Linked DNA regions of Homo sapiens. The protein of the gene in region 1 interacts with the protein of each later gene in a pairwise test. Each region holds a gene or a part of one and is shown on either strand. Other genes may lie near its edges.

Region 1 (5,178 bases):
AAAAAAAAAAACTAAAGGCACTTGTCAGGTACAGCCCTGCAAAAATGCCGTGCTCACTCGCAAACCTGTATGTTGACACGTGCGGCATCGCTGCAGTCGGATTAACGTGGAAGAAAGAGCGTATTCCTGCGCTAGGTTCCCTCCTCCACTCTGCAAAAGTGACCCGCAAGGAAGGTCCAGCCGTCCGGCCCCAGTGCCCTTTGGTTGAAAGCGGAGCTGCCCCGGCACCCTGTCTGTCTCCCCGGCAGGGCTCCCGTGCGTGCCTGGGTCCCTTCTCATGCTGTGTTTGTCTTGGCCCTTCTCAGCAGGTCCCCACGCATGAGCAGCCGTCCAGCAGGCAGGCTCCGGTGGAGAAGCAATGGAGAATAAAAGCCTGGAGAGCTCCCAGACAGACCTGAAGCTGGTGGCCCACCCCCGCGCCAAGAGCAAGGTGTGGAAGTATTTCGGCTTCGACACCAACGCCGAGGGATGCATCCTGCAGTGGAAGAAAATCTACTGCCGCATCTGCATGGCCCAGATCGCCTACTCCGGAAACACCTCCAACCTGTCCTACCACCTGGAGAAGAACCACCCCGAGGAATTCTGCGAGTTCGTCAAGAGCAACACGGAGCAGATGCGTGAAGCCTTCGCCACCGCCTTCTCCAAGCTGAAGCCCGAGTCGTCCCAGCAGCCCGGGCAGGACGCGCTGGCCGTCAAGGCCGGCCACGGCTACGACAGCAAGAAGCAGCAGGAGCTGACGGCCGCCGTGCTGGGCCTCATCTGCGAGGGGCTGTACCCAGCCTCCATCGTGGACGAGCCCACCTTCAAGGTGCTGCTGAAGACGGCCGACCCCCGGTATGAGCTGCCCAGCCGGAAGTACATCTCTACCAAGGCCATCCCTGAGAAGTACGGGGCCGTCCGGGAGGTGATCCTGAAGGAGCTGGCCGAGGCCACCTGGTGTGGCATCTCCACCGACATGTGGAGGAGTGAGAATCAGAACCGCGCCTACGTCACGCTGGCCGCCCACTTCCTGGGCCTGGGCGCCCCCAACTGCCTGTCCATGGGCTCCCGCTGCCTGAAGACCTTCGAGGTGCCCGAAGAGAACACGGCGGAGACCATCACGCGAGTGCTCTATGAGGTCTTCATCGAGTGGGGCATCAGCGCCAAGGTCTTCGGGGCCACCACCAACTATGGCAAGGACATCGTGAAGGCGTGCTCCCTGCTGGACGTCGCAGTGCACATGCCCTGCCTGGGCCACACCTTCAATGCCGGCATCCAGCAGGCCTTCCAGCTCCCGAAGCTGGGGGCGCTGCTGTCGCGCTGCCGCAAACTGGTGGAGTACTTCCAGCAGTCTGCCGTGGCCATGTACATGCTCTATGAGAAGCAGAAGCAGCAGAACGTGGCCCACTGCATGCTGGTGAGCAACCGCGTCTCCTGGTGGGGGAGCACGCTGGCCATGCTGCAGCGCCTCAAGGAGCAGCAGTTCGTCATCGCCGGGGTCTTGGTGGAGGACAGCAACAACCACCACCTCATGCTGGAGGCCAGCGAGTGGGCCACCATCGAGGGGCTGGTGGAGCTCCTGCAGCCCTTCAAGCAGGTGGCCGAGATGCTGTCGGCCTCCAGGTACCCCACCATCAGCATGGTGAAGCCGCTGCTGCACATGCTCCTGAACACCACGCTCAACATCAAGGAGACCGACTCCAAGGAGCTCAGCATGGCCAAGGAGGTCATCGCCAAGGAGCTTTCCAAGACCTACCAGGAGACGCCCGAGATCGACATGTTTCTCAACGTGGCCACCTTCCTGGACCCCCGCTACAAGAGGCTGCCCTTCCTCTCCGCCTTCGAGCGGCAGCAGGTGGAGAATCGCGTGGTGGAAGAGGCCAAGGGCCTGCTGGACAAGGTCAAAGACGGCGGCTACCGGCCGGCTGAGGACAAGATCTTCCCGGTGCCCGAGGAGCCTCCCGTCAAGAAGCTCATGCGGACATCCACGCCGCCGCCCGCCAGCGTCATCAACAACATGCTGGCCGAGATCTTCTGCCAGACAGGCGGCGTGGAGGACCAGGAAGAGTGGCATGCCCAGGTGGTGGAGGAGCTGAGCAACTTCAAGTCCCAGAAGGTGCTTGGCCTCAACGAAGACCCCCTCAAGTGGTGGTCAGACCGCCTGGCCCTCTTCCCCCTGCTGCCCAAGGTGCTGCAGAAGTACTGGTGCGTGACGGCCACGCGCGTCGCCCCTGAGCGTCTCTTCGGATCCGCCGCCAACGTGGTCAGCGCCAAGAGGAACCGGCTGGCTCCCGCGCACGTGGACGAGCAGGTGTTTCTGTATGAGAACGCCCGGAGTGGGGCAGAGGCGGAACCCGAGGACCAGGACGAGGGGGAGTGGGGCCTGGACCAGGAGCAGGTGTTCTCCTTGGGGGATGGCGTCAGCGGCGGTTTCTTTGGCATTAGGGACAGCAGCTTCCTGTAGCGAGGAAGCGTGTTGTCTTACAAGTCATCCCCGCAGCAGCCCATTGGATGCTTTGCTGTAAATACTTACCCGGTCAGCTTGGTTTTGAACCTCAGAGACCATCCACTGTCTTTGACACCTAGAAGGTGGAAAAAGGAAAGAGATTTGAGAAGTGAGAGAGGGTCGGGGGCGGTGGCTCCTGTCTATAATCGCAGCACTTTGGGAGGCCGAGGTGGGCAGATCAGCTGAGGTCAGGAGATCGAGACCAGCCTGGCCAACATGGCGAAACCCCGTCTCTACTAAAAATACAAAAATTAGCCAGGACTGATGGCATGTGCCTGTAATCCCAGCTTCTGGAGGCTGAGGCCAGAGAATCGCTTGAACCTGGGAGGTGGAGGTTGCAGTAAGCTGAGATCGCTGCACTCCAGCCTGGGCGACAAGAGCGAGACTCTCTCAAAAAGAAAAAAGAAGACACAAGAGAGGTGGCTTTGAGTGGGTTTCCTTTCCTCCCCTATTCCCGGGGCCCGGACGACTTCTGCTTGGGAACTGCCAACGCTTCTGCTTGGGAATTGCGTGCAGCAGAGCCTAGAGGAGCTGTTCCTTCCTTCACAGATACTTAAGACCTCCACCATGTCTGATTCGAGTTCTCCCTGGGAGGGTTTAGAAGAAACGCAGGAACATTCTGGGTGGCGTCGAAGGAGCCTTTCCCGATCATCATGTGTGACTTCTGCGAGGTCCAGATCACTGAATTCATGTTTACATTCTCGTGCAAGCAGGGACCTCTTGCTTCTGAGAAATGGGGAAGAGACCTTTTAGCCAAAATGCCCTTCTTAAAAAGAGAGACCTTTTTTTTTAATGTTCGGTTAAAAATGTGACAGATGAGTACAAAAATGCAGACACTTAACAAAAAGCAAACAGAAAAAAAAGTGTGGAATGTGTTGTATTTTCGACAGGTTGCTGCCAGAGAGCCTGCTTCCTGCTGCCTGCCGAAATTTCACTTTGCGGAGTTGGTCCTTAAAACTGGGCGGTGGCCGGGCGTGGTGGCTCACGCTGAGGTCAGGAGTTCGAGACCAGCCTGGCCAACCAACATGGTGAAACCTCGTGTCTACTAAAAATACAAGAAACTAGCCAGATGCGGTGGCACCCGCCTGTAATCCCAGCTACTCGGGAGGCTGAGGCGGAAGATTCGCTTGAGCCCAGGAGGTGGAGGTTGCAGTGAGCCAAGACTACGCCACTGCACTCCAGCCTGGAGGCCAGAGTGAGACTCCGTCTCAAAACAAAACAAAAGTGGGTGGCTCACGGGTCCGGAGGTTATGTCTTCGGTGTCTCAGCCCTAAAAGTCCAGTTCCCCCGTGCGGCCAGCTTTTCCACATAAGGTGTTTTTGATTTGATTACCGGAAAGGACTCTTGATTCTTCTCTTTTAAACTGAATACCATAGGGGAAATGAATTTTAAAATATTGCCCCCGGAGGGGTTTTCCGTGGCTGGATTCCTGCGAGTTGCTTTCAGTCATTCAGGGAAACAGAAAGACGTTTTCCAACATGTAGAACTGCTTTTTAACTGGAGGAAAAATACTTCAGGAGGCTTAGCATATTGCTTGGATTCTACGTGCAGCGGGTTCTCTGCCTCCGTGAAGACAAGCTGGGCTGGGGAGAACGGTGTCTAGGAGGGATGACCCCACTCAGCTCCAGGCAGTGTTCTGCCGAGACCCCAAGAACTCGGGGTGTCAGAGGGCAAAGGAACTACCTGCCTTTCACGGCTGCTGACTTCTCAGGGCTGCAAGCAGCACAGAATGTTATCCTTACGTCCTGAGCCGGTTTAAGTCTGTGGAAAAGGAAGCACGGGAGAAATCCACGTAACCTTTGCTTTCTTTTTAAGGGAAGCGGTTCCGCCGTGAACTTGGAACCCTCAGCTCCGGGTGTTCTCGGCAGAAGGGCAGCTGGAAGGGACACAGTGGGGCAGGCTTTGGGGTTGCTCCCTGTTCTGCCCCGAGGCCGGGGACGCAGGGCAGCCCACGCCTCCGTGGGCTCCATTCTGTAGCATTGCCAGCGTTCTCTTCACGTCTCTAACAATCCTTCGCTTTTCCTCACTCACGTGGAAATGTGAACTGTCCCGGCTCTGTCTTCATTTTTATTTTTAAGCCATCGTTCCCCTCCTGAACGGTTGCCCCTTATTTAATGCTGTAAAGTTGGACTGTTGTTCAATAAACCAGAGCAATGCATTAGCTCCTCATTCATTTGTCTGCCGCGTGTCCGTCTGGACTGCAGTTTGTCTGAACCCCTTGATCCTGGGAGTGGAGGGAGGTTTATCATTATTATTATTTTTATTTTTGTTGTGGTCCTTGTTGAAAGCAACTTTTTCCAGGGCACCCACGGTCAGTTCTGTGCTCCTCTTTCTTGTCTGTAAATCCTCAAGTTATGATGTACTTTCGGGTGTTTTGGCATCAAAATTTCTGAGTGAATAAAGCCGGCAGCTGGTGAAAGTGTTCCCCGGGAGCAGAGATTTTTGCCGGTTCCTTCACTTAGTGGATAGTTGTATAAACGGAGGCCCCATGGACGAGGCAGCCTGGATGGATCCGGATGGCATCAGCGCCTTCCCTCTCCCCCCAGCCTCCTTATCACCCCTCTCTTCCTGTCTTCCTCACCTCCTCTCACATGGTCTCTTCCTTCCCTCCTCCTTCCGTCCAACCCTCCCTCTCTTCTTCAGCCAACAAATCCTTCCTTTCTTCCTTCTTTCCTTCCTTCCTTCCCTCCCAT
Region 2 (5,797 bases), on another chromosome or scaffold:
AGAAAGGTCACTGAATGCCATTCCAAAGAAAATTTAACTTGGTTCTGGTGGGAAAGTTCTTCCAAGTACAGTCAACACTAGAAGCATTTTAAAGGGAATTGGTTGGAGGTAATGGGAGTGGGGAGGTGGGAACCAGTTTGATGCACAGTTTGGTCAACATATTTTGTGTAGTTCTGGCACAATATGGAAAATCAACTTACTCTTTCAGAGTTTGAGAGAACCCATTATCCAGATGTGTTTGCCCGAGAAAGACTAGCAGCCAAAATAGATCTACCTGAAGCAAGAATACAGGTACCGAGAGACTGTGCAGTTTCACACTTTGTGATTCATACCATTTGTCTTTCCTAGAGACAGAGGTGCTTGTACAGAGTACTATTTATTTATAGGACTAATATAATAAAAAGGTTCAGTCTGCTAAATGCTCTGCTGCCATGGGCGTGGGGAGGGCAGCAGTGGAGGTGCCAAGGTGGGGCTGGGCTCGACGTAGACACAGTGCTAACCTGTCCCACCTGATTTCCAGGTATGGTTTTCTAATCGAAGGGCCAAATGGAGAAGAGAAGAAAAACTGAGGAATCAGAGAAGACAGGCCAGCAACACACCTAGTCATATTCCTATCAGCAGTAGTTTCAGCACCAGTGTCTACCAACCAATTCCACAACCCACCACACCGGGTAATTTGAAATACTAATACTACGAATCAATGTCTTTAAACCTGTTTGCTCCGGGCTCTGACTCTCACTCTGACTACTGTCATTTCTCTTGCCCTCAGTTTCCTCCTTCACATCTGGCTCCATGTTGGGCCGAACAGACACAGCCCTCACAAACACCTACAGCGCTCTGCCGCCTATGCCCAGCTTCACCATGGCAAATAACCTGCCTATGCAAGTAAGTGCGGCTGGTGGTGGCCTGCATAACCCAGGCCCCAGAGAAGTGAGGAGTGGCTCAGGGCCTGCGGACCTCATTGGCTGTGTCTGCACCCTTGAGAGCTTTTCGCACTACAGTGATTGGCTTGACCAGTCAAGTCGGAGACAGTCAATCCCATCACTTTTAAGTGATTGACTCATTAATTCATGCCCTAAAAAAATGAGTAATAAAAATCTGTCCAGTTTTGTCAGGTTGATCTGCCTTTTATTATACTGTTACCTTGATAATGTTGGGTGGTGGTGGGGCATGTTTTGGGTACCAGGGAGCCTTGCACCAGAAAGTGGAAATAATGCTGGCACATTATCAGATAGCAGATTAGTAGTTTAAAATTTGGGTTTATATTAATGTGTTTGTATGCTAAATATAGAATCTGTGCACGCATTTGGGGCATTACTTTGGGTATATGTGATAAACTAGTGAGAAAGAAAAAAGGATCAGAAATGGGATTCATATTTACATGGTGAGATATACATAATATAATGAGAATGCTAGTTTTCTGTCTGTATCTACAATAAGAAAAGGCATAGCAGGTATTTGCTGGAAATTTAGTGTGTCTTTGCTGTGAATGGTGTGACGAGTTTGTGGCCCTCCTAGCTGCCTGGGAAGCTTGATGCTATTCACTTGGTATGACAGCCTGCCTCTCCTCTTAGTTCTGTCCCAAATATCTATTAGCCCCTACATTTAGAGGTCCTGCACTAGGTTCACCCTTTATGATGTAAGTTGGATAAGGCAGATGGTTTGTACTAGACCTTTGTTGCTGGATGGATTCTTGATAGGAAAAATGTCTGTCTTCTGGTAGGCCTTTCCCAGTGGTTTTCCTAGAACTCCTGTTTGTGCAACAATTAGAGATATTAGATGGTACGATATTGGCCAGCATGAGCCTCTGCTGGAAACAGTTCTGGGGCTACACTGATTGTTTATTCTCCATTGAACATTTTTTGCTGGATTTCAAATCCAAATAACAGCAAAATAAATGTTTCACAGTCTTCAGACTAATATAGGAGCAGCTAGATAAGCAACTTCAGAGGAATTATTCACATGTTTATTTTTATTGCATCTGGATATTGTTGGCCATAGTGCAATTGATGTAAATTAAGGGATTAACAGCCCATTAGTTGGTGTTGCTATAACTGCGTTGGAATTTTCCAGAAGTCAGGTTGCCTAGAGGAACTCATTGCAGGAATTAGAAACAAATGCAAGCTGAAATTCTGGCAGGCCCTCAAGGCCTGTTTGCCTCTTTGAACTTGATGTTAGCATTCATCATCTGACTTTAATAAGGCCACAGAGTGTCTCGTTCAGTTTCATGTATTATAACAACATCCAGGTTTCTGTGAAGATAGCAAAATGTGTATGTGAGAAAATAATAAGACGAACAAGTAGATGCTGCAATTATATTAGGGCTGTTTCCACATACAGAGCGGTATGGGGAATCAATCTATTTCAAACACTGACTTTTAAAAATTACATAATTTGTATAATTCAAAAAGTACATGCATTCATTAAGCATAAAGAAAATCAAAATGATCAATAACTTTACTCTTCAGAGAAAACTACTCTTTGAATTTTGGAGTGGGTGAGCCCGATTGTCTATCCATTTATTCATTCTCTTGACCAAAATCATCATTTTACAAATGGTGGGTGTCTTCCTCTGGACCTTCTCTGATATGCTTCCCTCTCTGAGCATATGGATTTTGGAAATTAAACATTTCTCCAGTTTGCAGAGAAGAGAAATGATAGTATACTGTACTATCATCTGACCTGCTTGTTCCCGACACACTTCTTTTAATTCATCCCAAGTTTGCTGCCATGGCATAGTACCATGAGAGCTCATGAGGCGTTTTGTTAGGAGAAAGGTTTACCTCCTCAGTGCTGCCATTCCGAACAGTTCGAGGGTAGCAACAGTTTTCTAGTTATAAGTCAGTCTGGGCTTTTGGGTCTGTTAGGAAGTCATGGTTAATTCTCAGGATGGAGGTCGTTATATTTACTAACACTTCTGATCACTTTAACTTGGGGTCATTACAGATCTGCTTCTTCAAAGAATCTTTAATCCCATCAGTGAAAGGTTCCCAAGGTCCCTGAACCATACTTTACTGAGAGCTCCTCCCACTGCTCTCTGTCCCAAAGCTTGAGATATGGGCTCTGGGGGTCATAGGGTTCCCAAATAAATCCAGATTTGCAGGGAGAGGGGATGTGTTTTGATGAAGGTCCTCATGCTATAGGTTCTTCAAAGATGCTAGCAGAGGTTAGAGACAAAAATCCTATTAATTTATGGATAGTGGCAACCATCTAGCTGGACAGTTGTCAGAACCTAAAGTGCTTTAGAGGCTTGATACATAGGCAGCTTTCTTCTAGCTGTGGCCAGTGGAAGGACTAGCTCGAGGCCCAATCTTAGATTTATCATATGGAATTCCAGTACTTCACGTGAAGGCATCTTTAATGATCAGACTTGTTGGCAGAGTTCCTCGGGAGGAGGGAGCCTGGGGCTGTGGCTGTGTGATGTGTTCCTCAGTAACCACAGGTTTGCCTCTCTCCTCACAGCCCCCAGTCCCCAGCCAGACCTCCTCATACTCCTGCATGCTGCCCACCAGCCCTTCGGTGAATGGGCGGAGTTATGATACCTACACCCCCCCACATATGCAGACACACATGAACAGTCAGCCAATGGGCACCTCGGGCACCACTTCAACAGGTGAGCCACTGCTTTCTGCAGGCTGCACAGAGGCGATCTCTCTTCACTAGAAGTTTACCCAAACAGAATCTCCTGGTCTTATGGGAGGGCGTGTTTAACTCCTTGCTTTCCTTGTCCCTGGGGGATGGGGATTGAAAAGGGAAATTCAGTTAAGCTAATTAGTAACTTTACACCATATAGACAAAAACTAAAATTGTTTTTCCTGAATTTGGTCACAAAAGTTGTGTATGAAGACAAGGCCTGAGACTGCAAGTTTTCTGAGGACAGATTATTAGACGAAGCTCAGTAGGGGGCCCACTGAGCTGTAGGTGCGTGCTTGTTGAAATGCTTCTTGCCCTCATAGCTCCTCTAGACCTTTTGCTGGAAATAAAAAGTGACACATTGGTTTTCCAGAGACAGCTTTATTGTAAAAGTTCCAAACATGCAAACAAACAGAGGATTTTTTTTTTCTTTTCCTTTGGATTGGGGTGGGGGGTACTTGGGATCCAATAGGTATATATACATATATTGTCTAGTTTCTGAAGGTGCTACTTTTATTTGTAACAATTGAAGTGATTTTAATACAGTAAAAAATGTTAGAAAGTATTAGTTTTTTTTTTTTTTTTTTTTTTTGTAAACCTATAAATTTGTATTCCATGTCTGTTTCTCAAAGGGAATATCTACATGGCTATTTCTTTCATCCACTTCTAGGACTCATTTCCCCTGGTGTGTCAGTTCCAGTTCAAGTTCCCGGAAGTGAACCTGATATGTCTCAATACTGGCCAAGATTACAGTAAAAAAAAAAAAAAAAAAAAAAAGGAAAGGAAATATTGTGTTAATTCAGTCAGTGACTATGGGGACACAACAGTTGAGCTTTCAGGAAAGAAAGAAAAATGGCTGTTAGAGCCGCTTCAGTTCTACAATTGTGTCCTGTATTGTACCACTGGGGAAGGAATGGACTTGAAACAAGGACCTTTGTATACAGAAGGCACGATATCAGTTGGAACAAATCTTCATTTTGGTATCCAAACTTTTATTCATTTTGGTGTATTATTTGTAAATGGGCATTTGTATGTTATAATGAAAAAAAGAACAATGTAGACTGGATGGATGTTTGATCTGTGTTGGTCATGAAGTTGTTTTTTTTTTTTTTAAAAAGAAAACCATGATCAACAAGCTTTGCCACGAATTTAAGAGTTTTATCAAGATATATCGAATACTTCTACCCATCTGTTCATAGTTTATGGACTGATGTTCCAAGTTTGTATCATTCCTTTGCATATAATTAAACCTGGAACAACATGCACTAGATTTATGTCAGAAATATCTGTTGGTTTTCCAAAGGTTGTTAACAGATGAAGTTTATGTGCAAAAAAGGGTAAGATATAAATTCAAGGAAGAAAAAAAGTTGATAGCTAAAAGGTAGAGTGTGTCTTCGATATAATCCAATTTGTTTTATGTCAAAATGTAAGTATTTGTCTTCCCTAGAAATCCTCAGAATGATTTCTATAATAAAGTTAATTTCATTTATATTTGACAAGAATATAGATGTTTTATACACATTTTCATGCAATCATACGTTTCTTTTTTGGCCAGCAAAAGTTAATTGTTCTTAGATATAGTTGTATTACTGTTCACGGTCCAATCATTTTGTGCATCTAGAGTTCATTCCTAATCAATTAAAAGTGCTTGCAAGAGTTTTAAACTTAAGTGTTTTGAAGTTGTTCACAACTACATATCAAAATTAACCATTGTTGATTGTAAAAAACCATGCCAAAGCCTTTGTATTTCCTTTATTATACAGTTTTCTTTTTAACCTTATAGTGTGGTGTTACAAATTTTATTTCCATGTTAGATCAACATTCTAAACCAATGGTTACTTTCACACACACTCTGTTTTACATCCTGATGATCCTTAAAAAATAATCCTTATAGATACCATAAATCAAAAACGTGTTAGAAAAAAATTCCACTTACAGCAGGGTGTAGATCTGTGCCCATTTATACCCACAACATATATACAAAATGGTAACATTTCCCAGTTAGCCATTTAATTCTAAAGCTCAAAGTCTAGAAATAATTTAAAAATGCAACAAGCGATTAGCTAGGAATTGTTTTTTGAATTAGGACTGGCATTTTCAATCTGGGCAGATTTCCATTGTCAGCCTATTTCAACAATGATTTCACTGAAGTATATTCAAAAGT
Region 3 (7,608 bases), on another chromosome or scaffold:
GTGTGGTGGTGCGAGCCTGTGGTCCCAACTACTTGGGATGCTAAGGTGGGAAGATAACCTGAGCCCAGGTGGTTGAGGCTGTAGTGAGCTGTCATTGCACGACTGCATTCCAGCCTGGGCGATAGAGCGAGACCCTGTCTCAAAAACAAACAAAAACCCCCAAACCTCTCTACTTGCCCCGTTCTTCCACTCCCTAGCATCCTCTATTCTACTTTCTGTCTCTATGAATTTGTTCATTCTAGGTACCTAATATACATGGAATCGTACAATATTTGCCATTTTGTGTCTGGCTTATTTCACTTAGCATAATGTTTTCAAGGTTCATCCAGAATTCAGAATTTCATTCTTTTCTAAGGCTGAATATTCTGTGGAGTATATATACCACCTTTTGTTTACTCATTCATCTGTTGAAGGTTGCTTGGGTTGTTTCTACCTTCTGGCTATCGTGAATAATGCTGCTATGAACACTGGCATACAATTACCTGTTTGAGTCCCTTCTTTATTTTTTATTATTACTTTTTTTGTAGAGACAAGGTCTCGCTATGGTGACCAGGCTGGTCTCGAGTTCCTGGCCTCAAGCAGTCCTCTACCTCAGCCTCCCAAAGGGCTGGGATTACAGGCATGAGACACTGTGTCTGGCCAAGTCCCTTCTTTCAAATCTTTCGGGCATATATTTAGAAGTGGAATTGTAAATCATACGGTAATTCAATGTTTAACTTTTTGAGGAACCACCAAACTGTTTTCTACAGTGGATATACCATTTTACATTCCCACTAGCTCTACATAAGGGTTCCAAATTCTTCACATCCTGGCAAACACTTGTTATTTTCCATTTTTTGGATAATATCCATCCTAATGGGTGTGAAATGGTATCTCGTGGTTTTGGTTTGCATTTCTCTAATGGTTAGTGATGTTGGGCATGTTTTCATGTGCTTATTTGCCATTTGTATATCTTCTTTGGATTAATGTCTATTGAAGTCCTTTGCCCATTTTTGAATTGGGTTTTGTTGTTGAGATAGCTAACCTGATTTTTGACAAAGGTGCAAAAGCAATTCAATGGAGGAAGCATAGCTTTCCAACAAATGGTGCTGGAACAACTGGACACCATAGGCAAAAAAGCAAAAAAGAACCTTGATCTAAATTTCATACCTTTATATAAAAATTACATCAAAATAAATCATGGGCATAAAACTCTAACACTTTTATAAAAATGGGGGGAAATCTTTGGGACCCAGGGCTAGGCAAAGAGTTCTTTCTTAGACTTGAAATCAAAAGCACAATCCATTAAAGAAGGAATTGATAAATTGGACCTTGTCAAAATCAAAGCCTTTTGTTCTGTGAAAGCCCAAGTGAAGAGGATTAAAAGATGAACTACAGATTCGGAGAAAGTATTTGCAAACTACGTATCCAACAACGGACTAGTATATAGAATATATAAAGAATTCTCAAAACTCGACAGTTAGAAATTGGGCAAAAGACATGAACAGACACTTCACCAAAGAAAATATACAGATGACAAATAAGCACATGAAAAAGATGTTCAATATCATTATCCGTCACGTACATTAGAACCACAATGATATCACTACACACCTATTAAAATGACTAAAATAAAAATAGTGACATCAAATGCTGGCAAGGATGTGAAGAAACTGTGTCACTTAAACATTTCTGGTAAGAATGTAAAGTGGAACAGTCACTCTGGAAAACAGGTTTGGCAATTTCTTCTAAAACTAGATATGCAGTTACCATACTACACAGCAATTGCACTCTTGGGCATTTATTCCATAGGAATGAAAACTTATGTTCACACAAAAACCTATACATGAATGTTTATAGCAGCTGAATCATAATTGCTCCTAACTGGAAACAACCCAGATGTCTTTCAGTGGGTAAATGGTTAAACAAACTGGTACATTCATACTAGAACTACTCAGCAATAAAAAGGAATGGATTATTGATACACACAACAACTTGGATGAATCTCCAAGGAATTGTTCTGAGTAAAAAAAAAAAAAAATCCATCCTAAAAAGTGTACATGCTGAGTTATTTCATTTATATAACATTTTTGAAATGACAAAATTTTAGAAATGGAGGGCAGACTGGTGGTTGTAAAGGGTTAGGGACTAGGGCAGGAGGAGGGAGGGAAGTGTACATAGTCATAAAATCACAACAGAGAGATCCTTGTGATAGTATTTGGTATCTTTTTTTTTTTTTGAGACAGAGTCTCACTCTTGTCGCCCAGGCTGGAGTGTAATGGCGCGATCTCAGCTCACTGCAACCTCCACTTCCTGAGTTCAAGCGATTCTCATGCCTCAGCCTCCCAAGTAGCTGGGATTACAGGCAAGCACCACTATGCCTGGCTAATTTTTGTTATTTTTAGTAGATATAGGATTTTGCCATGTTGACCAGGCTGGTCTTGAACTCCTGGCCTCAAGTGATCTGCCTGCCTCAGCATCCCAAAATGCTGGGATTATAGGCGTGCATGAGTCACCATGCCCGGCTAGTATTTGATATCTTGATGGTCATGGATACACAAACTGACACGTGATAAATCAAAAGAAAAGTACAGTTAAATTGGAGAAATCTAAGAGGAGTAGGTTGTATCGATGTCAATATCCTGGTTGTAATATTATACTAAAGTTCTGCAAAATATCATTGTGGAGAACTGGAAAAGTATACAGGGGATCTCTATTATTTTTTACAACTGCATGTGATTCTATAAAAATCTCAATATAATTTCAAATTAAAAAGCAAAAAACAAAGGGCAGTGTCCTACAGATACTTCTGGCTAGAGAAACAAAGTGGGCTGGAATTAACAAACATCTGTATACTGTACATGAGGAAATACTGGTGACCCAGATTGGATTCGCCAGCTTCTTGGATGATAAAATGTCAAGCTTATAAACTAAAGAAAATTCTCAAAAGAATTTTGGGCAGAAAAAAAAAATGGCATGAGAGCCTTAGTGGTGACCGTGGAAAAGTAACAAACCTAGAGGAAAATCATCCCTGCTTTTTAAAAAATGGGTTACTGCAAAAATGATATCCTCGTCAAAAATAATCCTTGGATTGCTGGAGCAAATGTTACCCCTTTCCCAAACTTTCTAATACATACATTCTAGAATGTCGGTTCTGAAATTCTCTTGCATCCTTAATTTTCTCACAGCATGTTCTTATTTTAATGAAAACCTGGCTTTCTGCTAGGATCCATGCTTTCCAGAAGCCCTCTAAGTAGACCTGGCTATTCCTTTTCCTATGCCACATAGTCCCATCGTGGTCATGAGGCAAACGAATGATACTCCCCACTACACACACCATTTAAAAAAAACCCTAATCCTTTGAGGCTCACATCTACCTGAATCCTACTCTTTATCCTGTCTCTCTTTGCTGCCACCTGTATATTATACGTCTCCCACCCTCAGCTCACCAGGCAGCAATTGGAGACCAACGGGAAAGATCCATTTTTCCTTTATCAGGAAACTTCGGGTTTATACCTGCAGTGCTGATGGCAGTCTAGTGCCGTATCTTATGTATGCATGTCTATGGGATGGGTATTCATTCACCTTATGAGGAAAAAAAATAGAAAAACAACTGCCAAGGTTTTCAAATTATGAAGTCCTGGATAAATATTTGGGCAGGAGCTGTGGCTCACGCCTGTAATCCCGGCACTTTAGGAGGCCAAGGTGGGCGGATCACCTGAGGTCAGGAGTTCAAGACCAGCCTGGTCAACATGGTGAAACCCCGTCTCCACTAAAAATAAAAAAATTAGCCAGGTGTGGTGGCGGGTGCCTGTAATCCCAGCTACTCAGGAGGCTGAGGCAGGAGAATCGCTTGAACCTGGGAAATGGAGGTTGCAATGAGCTGAGATCGCACCACTGCACTCCAGCCTGGGCGACACAGCGAGACTCTATCATAGATAGATAGATAGATTAGATAGATAGATAGATAGAAAGAAATCTCCCTTGAATCATCTTTCCTAGAAATTTGCCTCCCACCCCCATATTGCCCTGAAATATAGTAGTGTCTTACATTGGAAGGTGCCATTTAAAAAAAAAAAAACAAGTATTTTCCTTTATGAAAATAAACGATGTTCATTATTTTAAAAATTCTCTAAAGTGTAAAAATAAAAACACAGCACTGCTATTCCACCACCCAAATATAACCACTTTTAATATTTCTATTTCGGTCTTGTTTTAGTGCCTAGTTTGAAATAAACACAACTTTATTTATTTAGCATTGCTATATTGCGTCCTGCTTCCTTCACTCACCATCATAACATGGCCTTTCCCCACACTGTTTTACATTTTTCAAATATATCTGAATGGCTACTTTAAATTTCATGGTGAGATCGTTCGCTTTTTAACTCCCCAACAGGAGAGCGGAATGGGCATCTCTGTGCAGAACGTTTGGTCCACAAAACTTTTTTAAAAATATACTCCAGAAGATTTAAAATCTCCAGCGCACTCGAGATCGTGCTCGCTTGGATCCAGCCCAGCGCGCCATCAGCGCCTCTGTCACTTTCAGAACTCTTGGCGCCCCCTCGGCCCCCGTAGAGTAGCGTTGAAAACGCGCAAGTGACGTCGCTTGTTTCCCTGGTGACGGTTGCCAGGGCAGCGCGTGTCGGCGTCCGGAGGAGGTGACCTAGCCGCCGCGGTCCTAGAAGGGAGAAGTGGAGAGAGACCGCTGTAAGTGCCGGGGAGAGCGGAAGGGCCCGGGCCGGAGCTGGGAAAGCCCGCAGCTGCCGGGGGCGCGGAACCGAGCCCGAGCGCAACCCCAGCCCGAGCGCGCTGCCACTGGCCGGGCGCTCACCGCGTGCTGGGCGCCCAGCGAGGACTCTTCCCCTTCGTCCTTTGAATCTTCACACACAGCCCTCTTCTAACCCAGGCAGACGCTTATTTTCCATGCAGTACATGGGTTAATGAGGCGCAGAGGGTGGGTCGCCTGCCCCAAAGTCATAGCGTAGATGGCACAGTCAGAACTCGAACTCAGGTCCGCCTGACAAGCGCTGTTTGCTGGGCCTCTGCCACTGGGCCCTCTCGCACCGCACTGAAAGATGCGACCCGACGGCGTGCACTTCCGCATCTCCCAGTTCCCCTTCCAGGCCCAGCCCCCACAGGACTGGGGACTCGCAAGAGGGAGTTCCCCTCCAAGCCCGGAGTCCAGCCCTGAGAACCAGAGCATCACCCCGCTCCCATCCCAAACCCATCCCTACGAAGATGCTAGCAGTGCACAGAGCGCCAAACTAGGCATCCGTGGGCGGCCTCCCCACACCTCCAGGCCCCTAGACTGTTGTTGAGAATACTCGAAAAGAACACAGTAAAAGAAAAGAAGAAAGAGAAGGAGAGGGGAAGAGAAAAACAATGAAAAAAGTGGCAGGCCGATGGGGCAAGGGGTCTCAATCCTTCCTCACTGGTCCCTGTCACCTATGGTCCCATATCCTGTGGGATCTTGCTTCCTCATAGGACTCCAGAGTGCATGCCACTCTTCCTACTCCCTGGCTCTAAGTCCTACCTGAGCCAAGAGTTCTTTCCATGCAGCTCTAGCCTTTACTTTATTTTTTTTATTATTACTTTTTTTTTTTTTTTTTTTTTTTGACGGAGTCTCGCTCTATCGCCCAGGCTGGAGTGCAGTAGCGCGATCTTGGCTCATTGCAACCTCTGCCTCCCAGGTTCAAGCGATTCTCCTGCCTTGGGCTCGAGTAGCTGGGATTACAGGCGCCCGCCACCATGCCTGGCTAATTTTGGTATTTTTAGTAGAGATGGGGTTTCACCATGTTGGCCAGGCTGGTCTCAAACTCCTGACCTCAGGTGATCCACCCACCTCAGCCTCCCAAAGTTTTGGGATTACACGCATGAGCCACCACGCCCGGCTTAGCCTTTACTTTTAAAAGAAAATAGACTTAAAGCAGATTTTTAGAAGCATTAAACAAAAAACAGTTCCTTTATGTATTCCGTATTCCCATTTCCTCTGTTGTTAACATCTTACACATTGCATTGGTGTGGTACATTTGTTATCATTGATACAACTATACTGGTATGTTATTACTAACTAAAGTCCATAGTTTACATTAGAGTTCATCTGTTGTTGTTGTTGCTGCTGCTGTATTGAGACAGGGTCTCACTTTGTCACCCAGGCTGGAGTGCGGTGGCATGATCATGGCTCACAGTAGCCTCCAACCCCTGGGCTCAAGCAATCCTCCCACCTCAGCCTCCTGAGTAACTGGGAACACAGGCACATGCCACCATGCCCAGCTAATTTTTTTATTTTTTGTAAAGCTATGGTCTTGCTATGTTGCCCAAGCTGGTCTCAAACTCCTGGCCTCAAGTGGTCCTCCCACCTTGGCTTCGTAGAGTGTTGAGATTACAGGTGTGAGTCATCACACCTGGCCAGTGTTCATTGCTTAAGGTTGCACAGGTCTACAAGTTTTGCTAAATGTGTAATGCTGTGTATCCACCAGTAAAGTATACAGAACAGTTTCACCTCCCCAAAAACCCCCTAGGCTTTACTGTTCATTGTTCCTTCCCACCAACCCCTGGAAACCACTGATATTTTTCATTTAGAAGGGATTTACAATCACTGGTATCTTTTACTTCTCTGTAATTTTGCCTTTTTCAGAATATTATACAGTTTGCAATTATACAGCATGTAGCCTTTTCAGACCGGCTTCTTCACTTAACAATACACATTTAGGTTTCTTTCATGTCTTTTCGTGGCGTGATAGCTCATTTCTTTTCATCACTGAATAATATTCACCGGTATGAGTGTACCAGGTTATCTACTCACCTATTGAAGTACATCTTGTTTTTTTCTCATTTTTGGTAATTATGAATAAAGTTATTGAGTCCAGAATTGTGGGTTCTTGGTCTCACTGACTTCAAGAACAAAGCCGCAGACCCTCGCGGTGAGTGTTATTACAGTTCTTAAAGGTGGCGTGTCTGGAGTTTGTTTCTTCCTTCTGATGTCAAGATGTGTTCAGAGTTTCTTCCTTTTGGTGGGTTCATGGTCTCGCTGGCTCAGGAGTGAAGCTGCAGACCTTCGCGGTGAGTGTTACAGCTCTTAGGGTGGTGCGTCTGGAGTTGTTCATTCCTCCTGGTGGGTTCGTGGTCTTGCTGGCTTCAGGAGTGAAGCTGCAGACCTTCACGGTGAGTGTTACAGCTCATAAAAGCAGTGTGGACCCAAAGAGTGAGCAGTAGCAAGATTTAGTGCAAAGAGCAAAAGAACAAAGCTTCAACAGTGTGGAAGGGGACCTCAGCAGGTTGCCACTGCTGCCTGGGGCAGCCTGCTTTTATTCTCTTATCTGGCCCCACCCACATCCTGCTGATTGGTCCATTTTACAGAGAGCCCATTGGTCTGTTTTACAGAGAGCTGATTGGTCCGTTTTGACAGGGTGCTGATTGGTGCATTTACAATTGCTGAGCTAGACACAAAAGTTTTCCACTTCCCCACTAGATCAACTAGATACAGAATGTCAATTGGTGCATTTACAAACCTTGAGCTAGATACAGAGTGCCGATTGGTGTATTCACAATCCCTTAGCTAGACATAAAGATTCTCAAAGTCCCCACCAGATTAGCTAGATACAGAGTGCCGATTGGTGCATTCACAAA

What was found. The genes of interacting proteins can lie anywhere in the genome.
Region 2: the proteins of ZBED1 (region 1) and PAX6 interact in binary tests that used the Homo sapiens proteins (3 or more experiments, as listed by UniProt).
Region 3: the proteins of ZBED1 (region 1) and CCDC13 interact in binary tests that used the Homo sapiens proteins (3 or more experiments, as listed by UniProt).

Annotation. Positions count from the first base shown.
Region 1 is NC_000023.11:2,485,900-2,491,077, reverse strand, and holds the end of ZBED1 (E3 SUMO-protein ligase ZBED1), read left to right. Parts: intron 1-305; 5' UTR 306-358; coding exon 359-2,443; 3' UTR 2,444-4,643; downstream 4,644-5,178.
Region 2 is NC_000011.10:31,788,526-31,794,322, reverse strand, and holds the end of PAX6 (paired box protein Pax-6), read left to right. Parts: intron 1-208; coding exon 209-291; intron 292-520; coding exon 521-671; intron 672-769; coding exon 770-885; coding exon of another isoform or gene 886-1,059; exon of another isoform or gene 1,060-1,118; intron 1,119-3,462; coding exon 3,463-3,613; intron 3,614-3,998; exon of another isoform or gene 3,999-4,303; coding exon 4,304-4,389; coding exon of another isoform or gene 4,390-4,693; 3' UTR 4,694-5,297; downstream 5,298-5,797. UniProt on the Homo sapiens protein: Transcription factor with important functions in the development of the eye, nose, central nervous system and pancreas. Required for the differentiation of pancreatic islet alpha cells.
Region 3 is NC_000003.12:42,770,254-42,777,861, reverse strand, and holds the start of CCDC13 (coiled-coil domain-containing protein 13), read left to right. Parts: upstream 1-4,608; 5' UTR 4,609-4,686; intron 4,687-6,784; exon of another isoform or gene 6,785-7,250; intron 7,251-7,608. UniProt on the Homo sapiens protein: Required for primary cilia formation and promotes the localization of the ciliopathy protein BBS4 to both centriolar satellites and cilia.